Linked DNA regions of Homo sapiens: region 2 is linked to region 1. Evidence: fine-mapped expression QTL. Tissue or cell type: whole blood. Region 1 holds a variant in brackets; the other region holds the start of a gene. All regions are shown on one strand. Distances are between the middles of the regions.

Region 1 (8,202 bases):
GCCTAGGGCATAAACGAAATTATAACAACAGTGAGAGAGCCAATGGGAGTCAGCCAGTAAGACTATGAGCAGCATGATGTACTCAGACTTTTGTTCCTTTTTATTTATTTGGTTAAAATACATGTGTTTTTGCTTCAGGCAGATGTTGGTATCCCAGCCTTTTATACAGGAAGCTGTAGAAGGGAGAGGACTTTCTGGGTGGGAGCAACTTATTGTGGAGGCCAAATGGCATTTTTTGTAGGCCCTGAGATTTTTTACGAAAACACTAACTCTGTTCAGAACTCTTTCAAAGGGTGAAGACAAACTTAACAACCTTATACTATAATACAAATAATTACAGAGTGTTGCTTTAAACTTGTATCTTGAAGTTCCTTCTTTAGGTAACTCTGCTTAACAACCACAGACTCTTCTTCCTAATGGCTTATCTGCATGTCTTTTCAATTTTCTAAGTGAAGGCCAGCCCCCTTCAAGATGTTCTACCAACTCAGTCCTATTCTTTCCAGATGTTTTTTTTCTTTTTCTTCTTCTGAAAAGCATGTGTTGATAGACTATGGGGAACAGACCAAGATTTATTTTTTAGCCAGCATTTTCCCCTTGCAACCGTAAGTCATTCTTCCTCAGAAGGCAAGGTGGGGCAAGTGATTCTAATGTGCTTCGCTCCAATGCTTCCATCTCAATAACCCTTTAAAGTGAAAACTGTGGAGAGTGAAGTGAAAAACTTGTCTCCATCTGGAAGCATTTATACAGAGAGGTGTCTTTAGCTTAGTTGTTTGTCTAGAATTTCCATTTATGAACCGACTTGCCTTTCTCCTGTGGGTATGCTGGAGAAAACTCTTTGCAAAATCCATTGTATGCAATAATCCAGTGGCTCCTTCAAACTCAATCAGGCTGGAAAGGCTAAATATGACTCATAGGATTCCTCCAACAAACACAAAGTAAGTCAGAAGTCAAGGAGAGAGTCATCTCGATGTGGACCAGCTTACCTAGCAAGGCAGGGAATTGTCATAAAACCAGTTTCCTGCTTGCAAGACCTTGACTCCTTTCAGTAAAGGTGTCAACTCTTCTTTTTCTGAACAATCTCAATGTGAATGACAGGGCCTGATTCTAGAGGAAGGTGTCTTTAATCTTTTTATGGTTCAGTATAAAGGTTACCTTAAAAAAAGCCTTGGGATATACTTTCAAGATACTGACTTGTGATTTTTTTTTTTTTTTTAAACATCAGTATGTCCTGTTCTAATTTAATCATTATTCTTTCAAACAGGCTGGGAGGAAAGGTTCCTGGACATCCACAGAGAAAACTTATTCAATAAAACATTTTATAATCCTCGGAACACCTGTGCCACCTTCCTAAAGGCCAGTCAGTTCCAGGACTTCCTAAAAATGAAGGTTGGACTGTGTGAATGCCTGTGTGTGTGGGAGTGGAGTCACTCTGTGTGGTGTTGGGGGATGGGGTGGGGGGAAGCAAACTGGCAGACTCTAGAAGGATGGTGGTAGAGCAGAAGAAAAAAGAAGAATGTCTGAATCTGGAGTGGCCCCATGAGACCCAGTCTGTACTCAGGTGACACTGGAATAACAGGAGTTCCTTCTAAAACCAAGAGAGCAGCAGACACTCTGTCATGCCACACCCTTCTCAACTGTCTTATCCCTTGGCCGTCTCCTTTTTAGAAGCTAAAGCAATACATTTTTTTCTTCAGTGTCTCTTGTTCTTGGAATGGAGGTGCAGCATAGTTCCGGCCAATAAGATGGACATCTGATAGGAGAGGGGTGTGCTTTTGGGACACTTTCAGCTTTTCTGATAAGAGGAACACCAGGGCTGCCCTCACTCCTCCCTCCAGTCTGCCAATGTGATACCTGCAGTTTAAGACTATGAGAGAAAGGCATAGAGAATCACAGACAAACTGACCCTGAGCAGTGATATTATTTGAGTCACTAAACTAATACCCATAATGACCTTATATCCAGAAATATTGTAGTGTGTGTGGGAGGAAAAATCCCTATTTGTAATCACTTTATTTCTTACACTGTTAGTCAGTTTTCTGTTATTTGCAGGCAAAAAAAAAAAAAATTCCTAATTGATTCAGCAGAGGAGGCAGATCAAATGAGTAGCCATCAACTCTTAAAAAGGTTGTTTTTTTGTTTTGTTTCGTTTTTTGGGGGACAGCGTAGCTTTGAAAAACCTGAGTGAAACTAAATATTCTTCTGAAGGTAAAACCAATATAGCATATCATGGAGCCTCATAATTTATTTCAAATTTTATGCCTGAAACAACTTACCATCATTACTCTATGCTATGGTTTGAATGACCCCTCCAAAACGCATGTTGGAACTTAATCTCCAATCTGGCAGTATTGACAGGTGGTAACTTTAAGAGGTGATTGGATCATGAAGGCTCTGTCCTCATAAATGGATTAATCCATTCACGGATTAATGGGTTATGATGGGAGGGGAACTGGAGACTTTATAAAAGGAAGAGAGACCTGAGCTAGCACATTAGCACGCTCAGCCCCCTCCGCCACGTGATGCCCTGTGCCACAGAATCCCCACCACCAAGAAGGCTATCAACAGATGCAGCCCCTCAACCTTGGACCTCTCAGCCTCCATAACTGTAAGAAATAAATTCCTTTTCTTTATAAATTACCCAGTTTTGGGTGTTTTGTTATAAGCAAAAGAAAACAAACTAAGACACTCCATCCAGTGGTTCATGACATTTATTGAGAGGAAAGACAAGGTGTATTCTATAGCTATAACCGTAGAATTGCTTTTGTTAAGTATATTTATGTTTATACAAGCCTATAACCTTATTTTCCTACATGAGCCGAAGGTATCGTCTAATGGGGTTCTTGGCTTACCCCAAGTCCTTCTGATAATATTGGAGACTTATAGAGACTTTTGAAAGGAACACAACATAATGAATGGAAAGAGCAAATATCTTGCCTGGTCCCTAGCTAGTGACATGATATTGTGCAAATTACTTTGACTACCTGAGCTCCATATTATTCGTCTATAAAATAAGGAAGTGTTCAATTCAGTAACTATTTCAATGTTATTGTCTAAACAGTTTGATTATAAACAACCAAGTTACCTAACTGCAGACAATTTTATAATTATTTTTTCACCAATATGTGTTATGTTAGATTTCTAATATATCACCATGAACAAATATTTAAATTCTAAAATTTGTATTTGATACGGTCAGAATTCCTAAAATCAGTGGCATTCTCTGACTCAAAGAGTTATTTCCCTCCTGGCTCATTATTCTCCATATTAATGTTTTTAAAAGATGTCCTGAAGTCCTTGCATCTTTCTGGGTCCCAACCAACATCTACTGAACTTGAGTATTTGAGGATGGAACCCAGAAATCCGTATTTTTCACAAGCATTCTGGGACATTCTGACATGTACTAAAGTTCGAGGACCACTAATCTGGAAATAGGTGTCACTGAGACATTGGAAGATTAAAAATTGTGTACGGTTTTTATGATAAATGAAGACAGAGTTCAGTCACAGATTCAGTTTTTTACTTCTCCAAATGTGCTGATTTAAGGTCATTTATAACATTCTCATAGATTAATTTGACCCTCAGTTAGCATTATTATTTATTGTATAAATAAAATTCACAAAATCAAACTGAAAATAATTCTCCCAAGATTTTGATTACTGCTCGTTTTCTTTCCTCTTGTTTTTCCCTCCAGTCACCATTTGTTCTTATTTTTAAAATTTAATCTTTTTTTTTTTCTTTTTTGAGATGGAGTCTCGCTCTGTTGCCCGGGCTGGAGTGCAGTGGCGCAATCTCAGCTCACTGCAACCTCCGCCTCCCAGGTTGATGCCATTCTCCTGCCTCAGCCTCCCGAGTAGCTGGGACTACAGGCACCCGCCACCACGCCTGGCTAATGTTTTTTGTATTTGTAGTAGAGATGGGGTTTTACCATGTTAGCCAGGATGGTCTGGATCTCCTGACCTCATGATCCGCCCACCTCAGCCTTCCAAAGTGCTGGGATAATTTAATCCATTTTTTAAATCCTTGTTTTAATGCTCTGTTTCATTTACTGCCCAAAGAATGGCAAGCTTGTAGATAAACATGGCAAGTGCCATATTTGCCTGCTTTACTATAATCTCAGCTTTCTGCACCTTCTGGCTTATTTTCAATCCTATCATCCATTAATAAAATCAAAGGAGTCATGTTTACTTTGCACCCATGTTTTTCTTGATCTCTCTTTGGCAAGATTTGATAGTAATCATTATACTAATTGCTAATAGTAAACTGCTTCCCCGGGAGTTAAAAAAAAGTTCAGGAATTTCTACTCCAGTTTATATAGTTGATTGGGTTGAGAACAGCATGACATTGTAATATCTATATAAACAATGCATTTCTCAAGAGTAATTTGCTCACCATAGCATTTGGTATACTATCACCTCTTTAATCAATTCTGATTTATTCAACTTTTCTTTTATTACAAACTAGTCAAAATATTCCCCAAAATGTCATGTCCAATTCAGGTATGTTTTGAATACACTGCCTGTCATTGTTAAAAGCAGGACTGAGATCTGTAAGAGAGACCAGCATTGTTTGCCAATGTTTCAAAGCCATTTAAAAGGCAAGATAACTTGGAATAAACAGACTGAATCAAAAAAGGTTAAAGCTATTACAATT[C/A]AACAATTTAACAACAATATTAGTCATTGTTATTTCACAATAATATGTTCAGCATTTCTAAAGTGTTTCTCAATCAGAAAATGTTCATGTATCTTACAAAATTTTAAACTACTGATGAGTCACACATAGCACCTTAAAAGGAAGTCTGGTGTCCATTGTGAAAGATAAGAATTTAAGAGGCAGATGATCTCCCACTAATGACATACATTTATCCAAAGGTAAAGCTAAGATAGTTCTGAAAGAAAGGAAAGGTGAAATGGGATCCTGATCTTTTATACAGTACATCCTCTAGCCACAAGGGAAATTCCTTTTGAGTCTGTACTTGGGCTCAGCAGGTATGGAGGGGGGCTGGTGGGACCACAATGACCCCTTTGAATGGTCAAAGTGGTTGGTATCATTAAAAGAGCAACCAAATTGGAGTCAAGAGACCCAAATGTATGTTTCCCAATCCTTATTTATTATTTGTGTAGCCTTGTGCATGTCACCATCTTCCTGGGCCTGTCTGTGCCCTTATAAAAGATCTATAGCATTAGTGTATTAACAGACCTCCTTAGGGGGATTTGGTGAGGGAAAATTAAGGAAATATGTAGAAATCACTCTGAAATAAATGTTGGTTATAGTTATAATTCAAAAAAGACCCAGATCACTTCTTTAGAGCCTAAAAGCCAAGTATGGACTAGAGTGCCAGAGTGTCTCTTGTTTGGGCTATTGTTCTACATTTACCCACAATTATCTCAGCAACTATTCATCCCCAAGTAACCTAACTGGGGGAGCCTAGCCCAATGCAGAGGTTACAGGTCCGTAACTTTTGTAAAGCCCCCTCACAAACTAAGATGTCAGCTGCTGCCAAATTAGTTACAAAGTATGGAACCCATCCATGTGTTCGTTTTTTATAAGGCCCAGACCCCCATTCAGTTTAGTATCTGGAAACCCTGACTTTTGCATGCTGCTGGAGAAAAAATTATCTCCAAACCAATACCTACCTCTGGCAGGAATGTGCATTGGAACAGATTGAGGCAAAAATAACCCATTTGAACACAATATGCAACAGTGTATACAAATATGTTTTACGGCTGGACTTGAGTTCTGATTGTTAACATGTCCTGTTTTGTGCCACTCACTCAAAAATGTGTTCTATTAGGAGTCAGGTTCTATTCCTGACCCTCTTAGTCACGCTGGGCAAGGCATTTCCATTTTCCTTAGCTTTATCTTAACCATCTTGGAATGTCTCCTCATCCACTCTACCGTACTGGTTTCAAGTTATGTCTTCTAAGCTAATAACGGAGGGTCCACAAATTAAGCATTACAAATTGTACTAACTACTGTATTGAAGTAGGAGTCATGACCCCAAACCACTTCTTAAAATGCTCCTGAAATGAAAACGTTGAAAGGAGTACAAATCATTGCTTCAAATACTCTAAAAACTAGTTACCACACAGCATATCTTATTTCGGCATAGGGTACTTATTTAGTTTTGCAAGAACACATTTAATACCCTAGATATGCCTTTCTTCAGCTATAAGCCCACTACATCCTGTGAGGAGAAGAGTTTGAAGAGCAAGACCTTCTGGCTTTCAAAAGTTAGCAGACGGTCAGGAATTACCAATACTGAGGCTGTTAACATTAACCTAAAGAAATCAAGGCATTTCAAATTGTTACATAACTAAACCATGTTATTTATTCTTTGTACACAAATACATAGTGTCAGCTGACTTTCATTAGGAATGTGGTAGAGACAGCTAGAGGACAAGCTACAGAAGAGGCCCAAGCAATTGCCAGTACAAGCAGGCACGATGCAAAGCATTTCTGCCTGTGAAAATGGACAGAAAAGTGGCTGGCTTTAGCGCGGGGAGGACGAGGGGAGAGTTGGCAGAGGCAGAAAATGTGATGGAAAAACAACAGAGTTATTTTCCCCATGAATTACTCTTGCAGGTTGTGTAAACTTTCAAGTGAATAACTAGAATATGGCTTATGATGTAACTGAACAGTACAGAAGTCTGCACAGAGAAAGTCCTGTTCAAAAGAGAAGGAACACAACCACTGGTGAAAGACAGCTCAGCAGAAATGATATGGAAGAGGGGAAGGGAAGTGCTGGGTAGAGGAAGGCATGGTCCCAGGTTAGGACTCCACCCCCACGGACCTAGGTGAGGACAGGCATTTTTGTTTTCCTGCCCAAATGCTACATTTCCCAAGACCACCCAGGCCCCCATCCTGTGCCTATAAAAACCCGAGACCCTAGCAAGGCAGAGACAGAAGCAGCTGGACGTGGAGAGGAGCACATTGGCAGAGGAACACACAAGCGGCTAGACGTTGAGTGGAACTCACCAGCAGGCACCAGCAGGCCACTGACGGGCAAAACAACACAGAGTTTGGCTGGGGCAGTTGGAGGAGCGCTCGGCCCCCAAGCGGCCCAACTTATGGGGAAAATCATCTCCCTTATGGCTCCCCCATCTGCTGAGAGCTTCTTCCACTCAATAAAACCTTGCACTCATTCTCCAAGCCCACGTGTGATCTGATTCTTCCACTACACCAAAGCAAGCACCCCAGGATACAGAAAGCCCTCTGTCTTTGCCACAAGGTAGAGGGTGTAATTAAGCTAGTTAACACAAGCTGCCTTTGGATGGCTACACTAAAAGAGCACCCTGTAACACATGCCTACTGGGGCTTCAAAAGCTGTAAACATTCACCCCTAGACACTGCCCTGGTGTTGGAGCCCCACAGCCTGCCCGTATGTATGCTCCCTTAGAGGCCTGAGCAGCAGGGCACTGAAGAAACGAGCCACTTCCCCATCGTACACCCTGCGAGGGGGACAAAGGAACTTTTCCCATTTCACCTCCTCTGTCAGTACCAAGCTGGTCTGTATGAGGACGGCAGTCTTTGAAAAACAACATATTGGCCAGGCGTGGTGGCTCACACCTGTAATCCCAGCACTTCGGGAGGTCGAGGTGGACAGATCACGAGGTCAGGAGATTGAGACCATCCTGGCTAACACGGTAAAACCCCATCTCTACTAAAAATACAAAAAAATTAGCTGGGCGTGGTGGTGGGCACCTGTAGTCCCAGCTACTCGGGAGGCTGAGGCAGGAGAATGACATGAACCCAGGAGGCGGAGCTTGCAGTGAGCCGAGATGGCACCACTGCACTCCACCCTGGGCAACAGAGTGAGACTCCGTCTCAAAAAAAAAAAAAGAAAAACAACATATTGGTGCGATTCTGAGCTTCACTGACAAAGTGAAATTGACTACCTCTCTAACTGATTAACTATATCTCAATTTCAAATACTGACCACAAAGGTAGAATCTAATTATGAACTGACATATTAAGACCTAGGTGCTTAAATGGTAGGATGTACTTATTCTAGGCTTCCTGTGCTATGACAGGCTTTTACTCTTATGTGGTTAGGTATGTTTCCAGGGACATGCCTCGGTGAATATCACACATGGAAATGTGGTTAATAATGAGCCCCTTCTGTGATGGAATTATTATTCAAGGTATATAAATTTAGAAATACGTGAGGCTTAATAAAACATAACGTTATTGAGAAGTAAATCT
Region 2 (8,177 bases), 80 kb after region 1:
GCTAAATGAAGAAACTGGCTGAGTAAGGGCTGTAGAATTAGGCTGTCAATGTGGACAGAATTAAAACTGGCTTGGAGGTTATTCTTGCATTGTTCTTGAAACTTAAGGCTATTGAAAGGATTCAGACATTATATATTCCTTGCTGTATAATACCCATGAAAGTCAACATTATCCCACCAAACAGAAGTTGTCCTTTCACCTTCATTCAACAAATATTACCCACTGTCTTCAAGGCATTGTACTAGAAGGTATGCAGGATACAAAGCTTTCATCTGAGGACACAGCACATCTTTGATTTTAGATGATCAATATTCTCTCCCTTTCTCCAAAGGACATTTATGGCCACTTATGGCATACGAATTAACTATTAAAGTTATACATTCAACACACCTAAGTCACATAAATCTGGTTATGGACACAGTAGCAATAAAATTAAGAAAAAATTCTGACACTCACCCTGAACAAAGGCCCTTTTAAAATTAATAGCATATCTGAAAAATAAGAGGAGCCCGAGTAAAGTGAGACCTGCCAATGTAATGGGCTTGGTGAATCACTTCAAAATGCCCAGGCCTCCCTTTGGACACAATGTTATCAGGTTAATACAGCACTTGCATCACCATCTCTGAGTACCGTGCTGAGTAACAACGGGCCAAATTTAGCAGCTAAAATGGAGAGGGAATTTCCAACAACCCGTGCAATGCCACATATTCTCAGTGAAAAGCAACTACTAGAAATATACTATCCCTTACCCTCCTAACTTAAACTGTGCCTCTCTGCATCATCACTACACCTGGAGAGGGAGCTCCTCTAAGGGAATGTCTCAGGAGATGGCTGGTGGTTAGAAGAGAGAAAGATTCCCTCTTAGGCCAGAGGTAGCACAGCAGCCAGCTATGGCTTCTGCAGCAGTAAGCTTTCAGTCGGGAAGGGCCAGACACCGCTCCCTCACTTCCCTCCCAGCATGGGTATTGCTACTGTAAAGTTACCACGACCACTAAAGTTGGTTTCATTTCCCATCATGAAACACCCTAGAAAAAAAAGGCTGTCTCAGCTTACTGCCAAGTTGGACAAAAGCAGAAGCTCAAAGAACAAGGCCAGAGGCAAACATGCCACCTTTCCTTCAGAGGCTGGGCTGTGAAGGCCACAAGGGAAGCCCACTGTGGCTCTTCACGGCCCCGCTCCGGCCTTGACACCCCGGGCAGAGATCAGTCTTCTCCACTCAGGGTTGGGCCGGGTGCCTCACTTGCGGTTCCATCCCCAGAAACACTTACCAGGAGACTGTGAAGCACACAAAGCCGCATTATTGGGAGACTTGCAGACAGATTATAAATTTACTGGGGACAATCAAGGCATTTAGATACTTTTGGCTACAGATGCTGGTGACACACACATACATACAAACCTCATTCTTCTCTCCATTTGAGCGATTCTTTACCCCCCTCCTTTACCCTAACATCTCTTTTTTCACAAAACAACCTCCCACTGCTTTCCTAGGGAATTCCAGGGAGAAGCGGGAATAGAGCAGGTGGTAGAAAAAGGATATTAGGCTTCGAAGCTCTAATACAACCCCACAAGCTAGTGCTGCTATTCAAGGGTAAAACTGTAAACCCTGTGCAGTTTAACTGTTGGTAGTTATTTTTCATCTGGAGCTGGCCTCAAGGAGTCCCATTCCTAGGTAGCCCAAGTAAATGTGCTTATGGCTGGGGAGAAAAGCACCATCCTACTCCCCAGAGATTCCCAGGGTCTTCGTCACCATGGACCCAGGCCAGGGATTAAGGGAAGCCAGAAAGAGCCATCCTGAGCGTCTGGCCAGAGGATGTCCTCTCCCGAGAGCTCAATATCAAGCTCCTTTGGAGGAGCAGTTAGACACAATAGCACCATCTCCTTTGGGCTTTTTGAGTACTTTGGGGCTTGCATGGCCATTTCCTGTCGCTTTTGCTAGGGCTGACCTGGGTAAACTGGAGCAGACATAGAATCCAGAAGTCCCATGGAGCTCCAAAAGGGAGGAAGCCTGCAGGGCCACAGGGCAGGGTTCTACCTTCCACCAGAGGCCACTGGTCCAGCAGCTTTGGGGGGAAGCCTGCAAACAGCAGGCAGTCACCTGACCAGGACTGGCACTGAGAATCAATGATCCAAGGGATACTCCTCTGGGATGGTGTGTGTCTGTGCCTCTGGGGAAGAACTTCCAGCCAGAAACTTAATCAGAACTTTTGGGTTTGATATCCTATCACCAGGAGTGGCTGAAGACAAGGTATTTCCTAGGATGATGATCTGTGTAAATAGCTGCTTCGTGCCTGTCTGCTTAACGAATGCTCTAAGGGAGCATTACTGGATTGGACTGGAGTGCTTGGGAAAATAATCGAGATGTGGCTCAGGAGTGAGAGAGTCTAGAGGGAATCAGAGAGTAGGCCTCTTAAGAAACAGTGCCTCCCTAGTCTCTCTTTGGGATATTTTCCCCAAATTTTGTTTTTGACTGAGGGGACATTCGGGGAATTTGCTATTTGTTACAGCTTACCATTTATGTTCTCTTAAGCGAAGAAGAAGGGGGTCACTTCAAAAGGGAGAGGGGAAATGGGGCAAGGAGAAAAAGGCTTTAATAAAGGCCAGCTGGGCTGATAAATGCTTTGGGGCTGAAAAATGGCTTGGGGGCCTAATCAGAGCTGGCTGGCCAAAGCTGGAGGATCCATGAGATAGAACCTTCCTCAGTGGCTCAGATCTTGCCAGCTGGTAGCCTCTTCTTTTATAAGATGTGGACCCCAGAGAGCCTCTGGAAAACTCAGGCTTCTTATCAGTTAAGGAATATCCTATAAGCGAAGGAAAACCCAGGAGTGAGCACCAACAGAACATGATGAGTAGGCGCATGAAACCACCCGAACACACCCAATGGCCTTTAAGGTAGTCAGGTGACATCTTGGCCTTTTTCATTGCCATCCACTCTACCTTAGGCCAAAGCAAACTCTACCCTCACAAAAGGTCACAGGACCACAGCCAGAACCATGAGAAAGCCAGGTGCTTACCGCAATCAGGGCTGAGTTCCTCTGGTCCCCTGGGGTTGAAGCGGGCGGCTGCTGCTCTCCGTTTATCCCACCACTGCCACCATTATTGCTACTGTTCAGCAGGTGCTGCTGGTGGTGATGGTGATAGTCTGGTGGGGGCGGTGGGGCTGCTGTTGCTGCTGCTTGGGAGGCCGCAGGAGGGGCAGCAGGGGGCGGTGGAGGGGCTGTAGTGGTGGCAGCAGTGGCGGTGGCCTTGGTGTGTTTGCCAGCTTTCCTTGCCCCCTGGCCATGCTGTACAAGGCTCAGGAGCTGCAAGGTGCTTTCTCTTTCCCGGTCTGAGCTCTCGGCCCTACCTCGTTCATATCGTCCTTCACAGCTCAGGTGGTGTTGGCGGCAGACAGCGATCCGAGCCCGGAGGCGCTCCACGATAGCACTGTGCACTCTCGGGGTGACTGAGCCCCCTCCAAGGAGCCCCGCCCCAGAGGCCCCCCCTAGCCCTCCTGCGGGGGCCTGCGGGGGCGCTGTGTCCCCCATCTTACCGGACACAATGATTGCTGCCTCTGGGATGGTGAGGTGGAAAGAGGCTACTGCTGGCTATTGCAGGCAAGTCTGTTTTTGACAATGTGAGCTCAGTGTTCAGGGCCACATGAATAGAGGTCTTCAGAGGTTGTGGGGGAGCCGTGGAGAAGTTGTGGGGGAGGGGAGTTAGTAAAAAGAGGGTGGGGAGAAAGAATAGAAACCAACTGGGGGGAGGATAAGTTGGAAACAAACCCTGATTAACTTACTCTAATTGCATTTGACAGCTCTGGAGAAGTTGGACAGAGTTGGTGGATTTTTTTTCCTCCACCAAGCTGACAAGAGCCACTAGGTACTTTGTAAACACACGATCTGGGGGTTAGATCAAGAATTCAGGGATTGTCCAGCAAGAGACAGAAACACACAGCAAAAGGTATTGAGAGAGGTATTAATAGAGAGGACTCCCCCTCACCTAGTTGTTTCCGACAATTCTTTATGGGGATGTTTCTGCAGAGAAACACATTTCTACCATGTCTATGTAACCAGCAGCCTTGACTTTTCCTCAGGTTAAATAAAAAACCAAAACAAAACAAAACAGTGCTGTTTCAGAAGATGTTTAAGTCACTGTTCAAAATGTGCAAAAATCAAGGGAGACTGTCTTTTGGCTTTTAATTTTTCCTCCCTTTCCTTTCGCTCCGGTGTTTTCTCCTCTTTGGGGTACTGTAGGATGTTGTCTTCTCCCAAAAGAGGGAGACAGCTTTTCAACTGTTAACAATGTCAGTAATTGGACTTTTGGACCATGCTTTTTTCTTCAGCTAATCCAATCACCGGTAAAATCCTCACTCCCTCTAAGGTTTCCTAGCCTTAAATGAAAAGCAATCTTAAGTCGCTAGCCACTGAGAGAGATCCTTCAACACATTTTTTTCTTTCCCGCTTACGTTTCTATTCCTCACCCCCGGCTCTATTCTAATACAGTATCAAGAGAGACAAACTCTTCCGAGAGTAATTTACAAACGATGGTCAAACTTACAAACTTCCAGCAAATTGCACCGAGTCATGTCCAGCCACTTTTCTGTCCACTTTTGTACATTCCATCCCCGGCCAGTGGATCTGAGGGTCTGGACTCGCAATAAGCAATCTGGTTCTATCTCCTGTATTTGCTCCGCTTTATAGATGGAAAAAAAAAGTAGCTTGTATTTTCCTTTCTCTTTCTCGTCTGTTGTTAGCCGCTTTGCTGACACTGGCTCGCGCCCGGAGTCACGGCGATACACAGGCTTTCATTGTGCTCCGATAGGAGAGGGAGAGAAAGAGAGAGAGTGAGACAGAGAAGGAGAAAGAGAGAGCCAGCAAGCTGCAGATGGGGGTGGGGGGGCGGGGAGAGGGCGGGAGAGCTCGTTCGAGGCTCCCTGGTGGAAGGCTGGTGCCACTGCGCGAGTGAGTAATCGCAGCCAGGCACCGGGGAAAGGGGAACGCAGAGGGCCTCCCAGTGGCTGAAGAGGTAAATCCCAAGCCCTGCGCATCTCAGCTGCCCTGGCTCAGCTCAGCATCAGACTCGGTTAAGCGGGGAAGGCTGGGGAAATTCCCCAACCTCTACACAACCATTTCACCAGCTCTAAATGTTTAAGAAATTCCGGGCCAGGAATGTGTTTTCCCTTTCAGCCCTACATTACGCCCCGCTGAGGATATCATTTTCATTTTTCAGTATATTGTAAATGACACCACTGAGCAACCTAGCACGAGCTGTGTGAGCACCGAGGAAATGTTCATTAATAGAATAAGGAAGATATGAATGTGTGTGTTGAGGGCGGAAGGGGTTGCGCGTGGAGAGGAGAGGTAATCACATTGTTAGCTCCTAAAGGGCAGGCAGGTGTAGCGTTTGTCTACCTGCCTGCCCATTTGTGTGTCTCTGGATAAGTGAGTCTGGGTGATCACAGGCAAATCAGTTGGGATAAATAAAATATTTTATGAGAATGATACAATTATCGATACCAGTTCTAGAAAAAAACGCTTTTTTTTTGGGAATGCATGATTGCCTATGAAAAACCAAATATAAGACCTGAAGTATCCTTAGCTACCTGGTGCACATATACAATGAGGAAAGTCAATGTGTAGCAGCTGAGTTTCAAAAAGTTTTTTTTTTTTTTTTCTTTTAATGGAGTCTTGTTATGTTGCCCAGGCTGGAGTTGAACTCCTGGGCTCAAGTGATCCTCCCACTTGAGCCTCCTGAGTAGCTGGAACTACAGGTACTCACCACTACTGCACCTGGCTCTGAGTTTCAAGAAGTTTAATAATAGAAACCAAATAGATCTCACACAGATCATTGTTCCCCCATTTTCAAGTGATCCAACCTTTAAAATATCCAATCCTGGCCAGGCACAGTGGCTCACGCCTGTAATCCCAGCACTTTGGGAGGCCAAGGCAGGTGTATTACCTGAGTTCAAGAGTTCAAGACCAGCCTGGCCAATATGGTGAAACCCCGTCTCTGCTAAAACTACAAAAATTAGCTGAGCATGGTGTCATACGCCTGTAATCCCAGCTACTCGGGAGGCTGAGACAGGATAATTGCTGGAACCCAGGAGGCGGAGGTCGCAGTGAGCTAAGATCACGCCACTGCGCTCCAACCTGGGCAACAGGGTGAGTCTCTGTCTCCAAAAAAAAAAAAAAAACTTATTGTGGATTCTGCTTATTTTCAATTATGAAGATTAAATTAAGGTGAGCATAATACTGCAACAGTCAGGACCAAAAATATTCTGGGTATCCTAATTTGGAAGTCATTTGGATTTGAGGTCTCAAATAATATACCTTCAGTAATCTAAACAAACTCTGGCATTTCACGAATATGGTCGTTTCAAACTGAGCTATGGATAGAAATAGGCAAAATCAAGGCAAACATCTCAATACTGGATTTATTTGCAATTTAGTTCCCTATAGGATAGCCTACTTTAGTCCATTTTATTTTCACCAATCCTGTTAGCTTGGAAATGGGGACAAATACACTCAGATTTTTTGTTTGTTTTATAATTTCTTTTATTTCTTTTTTTAAATTTTATTATTATTATACTTTAAGTTTTAGGGTACATGTTCACAACGTGCAGGTTTGTTACATATGTATACATGTGCCATGCTGGTGTGCTGCACCCATGAACTCGTTATTTAGCATTAGGCATATCTCCTAATGCTATCTCTCCCCCCTCACCCCACCCCACAACAGTCCCCAGAGTGTGATGTTCCCCTTCCTGTGTCCATGTGATCTCATTGTTCAATTCCCACCTATGAGTGAGAACATGCGGTGTTTGTTTCTTCGTCCTTGTGATAGTTTGCTGAGAATGATGGTTTCCAGCTTCATCCATGTCCCTACAAAGGACATGAACTCATCAATTTTTATGGCTGCATAGTATTCCATGGTGTATATGTGCCACATTTTCTTAATCCAGTCTATCATTGTTGGACATTTGGGTTGGTTCCAAGTCTTTACTATTGTGAATAGTGCCGCAATAAACGTACCAGTGCATGTGTCTCTATAGCAGCATAATTTATAGTCCTTTGGGTATATACCCAGTAATGGGATGGCTGGGTCAAATGGTATTTCTAGTTCTAGATCCCTGAGGAATCGCCACACTGACTTCCACAATGGTTAAACTAGTTTACAGTCCCACCAACAGTGTAAAAGTGTTCCTATTTCTCCACATCCTCTCCAGCACCTGTTGTTTCCTGACTTTTTAATGATTGCCATTCTAACTGGTGTGAGATGGTATCTCATAGTGGTTTTGATTTGCGTTTCTCTGATGGCCAATGACGATGAGCATTTTTTCATGTGCTTTTTGGCTGCATAAATGTCTTCTTTCGAGAAGTGTCTGTTCATATCCTTTGCCCACTTTTTATGGGGTTATTTGTTTTTTTCTTGTAAATTTGTTTGAGTTCATTTAGATTCTGGATATTAGCCCTTTGTCAGATGGGTAGGTTGCAAAAATTTTCTCCCATTCTGTAGGTTGCCTGTTCACTGTGATGGTAGTTTCTTTTGCTGTGCAGAAGCTCTTTAGTTTAATTAGATCCCATTTGTCAATTTTGGCTTTTGTTGCCATTGCTTTTGGTGTTTTAGACATGAAGTCCTTGCCCACACCTATGTCTTGAATGTTATTGCCTAGGTTTTCTTCTAGGGTTTTTATGGTTTTAGGTCTAACACATAAGTCTTTAATCCATCTTGAATTAATTTTTGTATAAGGTGTAAGGAAGGGATCCAGTTTCAGCTTTCTACATATGGCTAGCCAGTTTTCCTGGCACCATTTATTAAATAGGGAATCCTTTCCCCATTGCTTGTTTTTCTCAGGTTTGTCAAAGATCAGATAGTTGTAGATATGCGGCATTATTTCTGAGGGCTCTGTTCAGTTCCATTGGTCTATATCTCTGCTTTGGTACCAGTACCATGCTGTTTTGGTTACTGTAGCCTTGTAGTATAGTTTGAAGTCAGGTAGCATGATGCCTCCAGCTTTGTTCTTTTGGCTTAGGATTGACTTGGCAATGCGGGCTCTTTTTTGGTTCCACATGAACTTTAAAGTAGTTTTTTCCAATTCTGTGAAGAAAGTCGTTGGTAGCTTGATGGGGATGGCATTGAATCTATAAATTACGTTGGGCAATATGGCCATTTTCACGATATTGATTCTTCCTACC

The links. PIP is the estimated chance that this variant, and not a neighbour inherited with it, causes the effect.
Region 2: MAML2 starts here. The variant in region 1 is fine-mapped to the expression of MAML2 in whole blood (TOPMed, PIP 0.95).

Annotation. Positions count from the first base shown.
Region 1 is chr11:96,258,745-96,266,946 of GRCh38, forward strand. All of the region lies in intron 1 of MAML2 (mastermind like transcriptional coactivator 2), which reads right to left. Among named protein-coding and RNA genes, the nearest start is that of MIR1260B, 79 kb to the right of the region's middle. RefSeq lists enhancers at 1-11, 52-101. The variant C/A (reference allele first, on the strand shown) is at 4,651.
Region 2 is chr11:96,338,369-96,346,545 of GRCh38, forward strand. MAML2 (mastermind like transcriptional coactivator 2) reads right to left here and starts at 4,827. Exons shown (of 5, transcript NM_032427.4): 1 at 3,015-4,827. The coding sequence starts at 3,527. MIR1260B (microRNA 1260b) reads left to right here and starts at 3,070; the gene lies at 3,070-3,158. RefSeq lists silencers at 897-1,191, 3,444-3,703, 4,821-5,010.